Regions from separate parts of the Homo sapiens genome. Here region 1 is linked to region 2. Evidence: fine-mapped QTL for protein levels in blood plasma. A gene starts in region 2. The other region holds a variant in brackets. All regions are shown on one strand. Distances are between the middles of the regions. Region 1 overlaps EPHA4 (EPH receptor A4). Region 2 holds the start of EPHA4 (EPH receptor A4).

Evidence for each region. PIP is the chance, under the fine-mapping model, that this variant and not a neighbour inherited with it causes the effect. Protein levels are from antibody-based Olink assays in UK Biobank. Linkage for the fine-mapping came from a reference panel and not from the study's own genotypes, which makes the PIPs less certain.
Region 1: its variant is fine-mapped to the plasma level of the EPHA4 protein (UK Biobank, PIP above 0.99).

Annotation. Positions count from the first base shown.
Region 1 is chr2:221,416,499-221,419,404 of GRCh38, forward strand. EPHA4 (EPH receptor A4) reads right to left here. Exons shown (of 18, transcript NM_004438.5): 18 at 1,529-2,906. Among named protein-coding and RNA genes, the nearest start is that of EPHA4, 150 kb to the right of the region's middle. The variant A/T (reference allele first, on the strand shown) is at 1,782.
Region 2 is chr2:221,571,347-221,574,216 of GRCh38, forward strand. EPHA4 (EPH receptor A4) reads right to left here and starts at 958. Exons shown (of 18, transcript NM_004438.5): 1 at 812-958. The coding sequence starts at 902. RefSeq lists silencers at 914-1,333, 1,934-2,213, 2,264-2,423.

The DNA of each region.
Region 1 (2,906 bases), 150 kb before region 2:
TACTTAACAGGTGCAATGTACATTCTTCAGGTGATGGTTAAACAAAAAGCTCAAACTTCACCACTATGCAATGTATCTATGTAACAAAACTGCACTTGTACTCCTTACATTTGTACATTTAGGCGGGGTGTGGCAGCTCATGCCTGTAATCCCAGCACTTTGGGAAGCTGAGGTGGGTGGATCACCTGAGGTCAGGAGCTTAAGAACAGCCTGGCCAATGTGGCGAGACCCTGTCTCTACTAAAAATACAAAAATTAGCTGGGCGTGGTGGTATGCGCCTATAGTTCCAGCTACTTGGGAGGCTGAGGCAGGAGAATAGCTTGGACCCGGGAGGTGGAGGTTGCAGTGAGCTGAGATCATGCCAGTGCACTCCAGCCTGGGCCAGAGAGCGAGACTCCATCTCAAAAAAAAAAAAAATAATAATAGTATATTTAAAAATTACAAGTGGCAATTTTGATACCACCCTACCAGCTCATTTTAGAACATTTAGGGAAAAATGCTTTGTGGGTTGACATTCTCTCTTGCTAAACAAGTGAGGGAGAAAATGCCAAACCTAATCCCTTTCGAATCACAAATATGCTGCCAACTACCATACATATTAATATAGTTGACACTAGAGAGCAGCTTAAGTAAGGCATAAACACAAAGTAACCAGACAAGACCCATGTTTTACAATGTTGCCGGTAACACTAAAGGCACACCCCTGCCCTCTGAAGCCAGCTGTTCTTAGGGGCTTTAGCTGAGATACTAAAATAAAACTTAAATCTGATGTTCAATCAATAGGGACTTTGCCAATTGATAATTTAATGAAATAGCATCACGAGGAGATCATTCAGCTTTAAAACAGTGATCCTTAATATTTTTATATCCCATAGCAATTTAGAATTTGATGAAATTTTGCAAACCTCCCCATCAAAACACATATACAAATGTAATAACTGACATTTGTTCAGTTTTAGGGATGCTGTTGGACCTGCTGGAGCACCAATGTACCCTCGAGGATCCGTGGATCCTAGGTTGAAAGCACCTGGCAAGGATGGGTAGCTGGTTGCTTGGATCAGTGACAAGGATGTAAGAGAGGGAACTGGGGGTATTGAAGAAGAAAGTTTATATCATCAAAAAAGCTACTGAGTATCACCACCATTTGTTGAGTTCTGGCTGGATGTTATACACTGTGCTAAATGTTTCAATATATTTAATCTTTTTAAAGCTCTTGCATTGTAATTATCCTACAAGCAAGGAAATGGGCAGAGAGAAGTTAAGAGACTTGCCCTAGACTGTATAATTAGTAAGTGGTGAAGCCTGAATGCCAACCATAGTCTACAGTCTTAATTACGATGGTCTAAGTCAGATTTTTCAAATGCATTGTTCTGAAGGGTGAAGAATCTTTAGAAGATAATAATTTTTTAACCTCTAAGTATGCTCAGTTGGAATTTAAGATTTTTTGTTTTAATTAAATGACAACAAATAATTAATTCATTTAGGCACACCATATATATAGCAAAAGTTATTGAAAGAGACAACCAGATTGCAGGGTTGTATACGGCAACTACTTTATTATTTTCAAATGCAAACTCTTTGCATTTAGTTTGCTATTTTACAATTTTACAAACTAGGTATAAAAGACCATAAATAAATGACATAAGTTATGTGTACCTAAAGTTCATGAAGGGAAGAAAAATACCTTGACAAATTAAAACAAAATAGAAAATCTATGTCTAACTCCAGAAATCACTCAAAGTTTGGAACGTGTGAACCGAACAATGTTCTGTTAATTTCTT[A/T]TTCAGTATGAACTAAATTATAATATGCCTTATACATTCTAATTTGAACCACAGTCCTTGCATATTCCAACATACTTAGAGTGATACAAAAAATAAACGCACTCTTCAGTGTGTATCAATGCTTGATGTTGTTTGGAGAATGTTAAATAAGTGAAAATATTGCTTCTAGAACTTTCCTTTATGGGTCAGAATTTAAGTGTCTTCAGACAAATATTGAGGCTATACGGGTGTACGGATTAATACACATATCCTTCACAGATTGAATACAAGAGGTCTCAGAATGCACACACCAGCAGTGTAGCGAGCACAACCTTTCTTTAAAATAAGAACGTTTTTCAACCCACCAGAACATTTCACTCGTAAGATTGCTAAAAAATAACTTGGGGCCTGCATACACAAGGTGAAGCTACTTGATTTGGTGCAGCGGGGTAGTTTCCCACTGCTCTAGAGATCGGCACATGAGTTAGCATTGGAGCTCACTCGGCCAGGGCTTGCCCACGGGCTCAGACCCAGACCCTGAAGTTGGCCTCCTACCCTTACCTCTGGAAAAGATGAACTGCTCAGAAGAGTCAACCTCATTTCTTTATACATATTTTTCAGGCATCAATGCATAGGCACATCCCTTAAAAAATATATTAAGGTCCCCAAAAAGGGGTGAATCAACTTTGTCACTCTGGCATAGAACACAATGCCACACACCCTGTCAGAATGTAATAAATATTTATTGATGATTTTCTCTACTTATTCAACAATAAATGGTTCAGAATCTATTTTTTTTCCTCATTTTTCCCTGATTTGATGTTATAGCTTATATAAATGGCCACGGTTTCTGCAACCACAGCTTAGGATAAGCAAGGCAGCCACTCAGATTATGAAAAATGGCAGTAAGTTGGCTGGAGTTTGGTATACATATCATATCAATACTGAATCTTCACACTCCGGAGCTCCGATTCTAGAAGGCTGATGCTCTTGTGAGGGCAACAGGAGTTAGCTGCATATTAATTACTGTAGAACTTTCCAGGTAATTAGGGAATGTGAAATTGCCTGAGGCCATTTCATCCCAACTACCTTAACCTCAAGAGTCACTGGCATGTATTTTTCTGTGATATTGGGAGACAAAGTATT
Region 2 (2,870 bases):
GACACACAGGCACATACAATCCTCCCAGCACGTCCGAACGGATGCACAGAAAACTGAGCACCCAGACGGGTCCCGTCGACCCCGCACGTTAGCTCTAAACTGTGTGCAATTCTGGGGCGAAAAGCTAAAACTCGACTGCGTTCAACTTGCCGGCGGGTTCCCCAAGTCTGCGGGGCGAAGAGCTCGGGCCCCTCAGGCCCGCAATCGCACCCTCGGGGCGCTGGGCTTGGCGAGGAGAAAGGTGTCTGACTCCGGGTGCTAGAAATCAGGTCACTGGCGCCTGACGAGCGGCGCCACGACCGCTGCGCTGCGGAGCAGGCCCCGCAGCCCGGTCCCGAGAAGCGCAGGGCTCGGGAAACTTTGCAGAAACCAGAGCTCGAAAGGCTTTCGCTAGAATCCGGGAGCACCAAGCCTTCACTGTGCTCCAGGCTGCGTTTTCCCCTCGCCCCGGGCTGGCTCAGGAGAGGACGTGGTTCTTGTAATTTTTTTTTTAAATCCCGGCGTTGTCTCCCGTGCATCCCCTCAGGGCGCCTCGAGCGGGCCTCTCTGGCGGATGCTGATAAACTTTGGCCTTTGGTTACAAACTTGGACAGACCCGCCGCGTGCACGGGTCACCGCCTCGGGGCAGGCTGTCCGGCGGTTCCCCGCTGCCCCTTCGCCGATCCCCTCGCCTCAGCCCCCTTCTCCCGAATCGGGACGCACCATTCACACTGGGCTCCCCCCGCACCACCTGGCCCTGCGCTCCTGAGGACCCCTCACCCGCGATGGCCCCTCGCTGTCCCCGACCACAGAAAGGCCGTCCCGCTCTTACCTTCATTCGCGGGGTATACCCTGGAACCTGTGACAGCGTCGCAAATCCCGAAGAGACACGAAAATAGGGCGAAATAGAAAATCCCAGCCATGGTTCGCCGGTGCCAACGCTGCTCCTGCCGCTTCTATCCCAGTGGAATAAATGCTTAAGTTAGGAGAGCAGCGGGCTGAAGACATTGCCAAGGGGGCGGGCCCGGCCGGTGACGTGAGCCCGCCAGTCCGGGGCCCGCGGCCAATGGCGGCGCAGACAGGGCGGCCGAGCCCCGCCTTCACCGAGCAGGGCCCGCCCCAGGGTTCCGCCCCCTCCGGGCTCCACGGGGCGCGCGGTCTCCCGGGGCTCTAGGGGGCGAGCACGGCCGGTCCCCGCCCCCGCCTGCCGGAGGGAGCCAGCGGGATCCCCCACGTTACCTCGAAGGTCGAGCCCCTGGACGGCGGAGGGACTTTGGAAAAGCTCGGAATTGACCGAGGGGAGCCAGAGAAGAGGTTGGAAACCTTTTCTCCCACCACGGGCGGTTTAAGATGGAGGAAAACGCTCTTTTATTGAAATAAAAGAAGTCTAAGCTGACCTGCGGTTGCTTCTTTAGGAGAGTCGACGTGTCTGCGTCCAGCGCGCCCGGGCTGAGCTGCAGACTCGCGCCTGCCACCGCCACCCTCTGCCACCTTGCCCTGTTTTGTCTTTATGGCGCTTCCCCCTCTGAAATACTCTTTGCGGGGAGTTTTGTGGCTCTATCACTCGCTTCTTCCCTGGCTCCCCAGATGCCTGGAGAGCGGGGACCTACTTGGTCCCCAACGTCCAGTCCGCAGCAGGGCTCCGTCACTGTCTCCAGAGACTGAACGAATGACTTTCTAGCAGTAAGGAAGTCCCCGCTGGCCCCGTCCCCCTGCACACGCCGTGGACCTCGCCCAGGGCCCAGGACGCCCCGAGATGGCCTTGGGCAGGGAACCAGTTGTGGATTTCCCGGGGGCAGGGTTGGGGGCAGTCCCTGGAACCGGGCCTAGCCCGTCTGGGAGCGGTGGGGTAGAAGTGAAAGGCTTAAGTGTGGGTGCGGGGACTTGCAGCCGCACAGACAAGGCAGACCGGGACTGGGAAGCTGCCCGGAGCGGCTGCTGCGACTCTCCGCTCCGACCTAGCCGGGGCAGCCCTCCCTGCCCCGGGAGAAGACGGCGAGCAGGAGGACCCGCAGAGCCCCGCCCGGCTGCTCCGGCCCCGGGGGCACTGGCACCATCGGGCTGTGGTCTTTTCCCGATGCCCGAGCCGTGGACGCGGCCACCTAAGAGCGGTCCGGCGAAGGCAGCGCAGCCGGTGTCCCAGGGACCGGTCCCCAACGCCACTCGGTGCATTTCCCCAGGCGCTGGCAGGGGCACTGATTCCTAGCAATGAGGCCTCCCTTCCCCTTCCCAGGCCGCCCCTCCTCTGACTCCCTCCAGAGCAGGGCCGAGTTTTCCTGGGGAGCCTGGGTCCCGGCGGCCGGGCGGCCGCTGGGAGGTGGAGGAGCCTCTCCAGCCCCGGCCGCAGCTCATCGTGAGCCAACCGCGCCACCTGCCGGCCAGATGCGGGAGTGTGCGGCCCCGGAGGAAGGGCGAGCGGACAAAGACCGCAACCCGCAATCCGCAACCCCGCAGAGAGGTGGTGCGTGCGTTTGGGCGAGCTTTTCAGCCACCGCCAAGTCTCGTGCACTAGGGCTACTCCTACCGTGGGGCTGCGGACAGCGCTCAAGAGGTCCTGGAGTCTGTCGTGACTCTCGCCTGCTGGATTTCAAAAGATGGAATCGGAAAGCGTTTCAAGGAGAAACTCCTAACAAACCTTCCGGGGGTTGCCTGAGTGGCTGCTCTCGGAAAAGCGGATCCTAAATAAAGCGGGAGGGTTATAGGGCGACGTCGAGGAGAGGACAGGTCTCGAGTCACTGCTACAGTTTCAGGTCACTGGGCTCCGCAGCAGATCGTGTTTTCTCCCGTGGCTCGAGAGCTGCGCTGGTTTCTCATGCAAACTCAGAGCCGAGCTAATGACATGAGCAACTTTTACTTTTACACAAGATGAGCACGCGTGCCGAGGCGCTGGG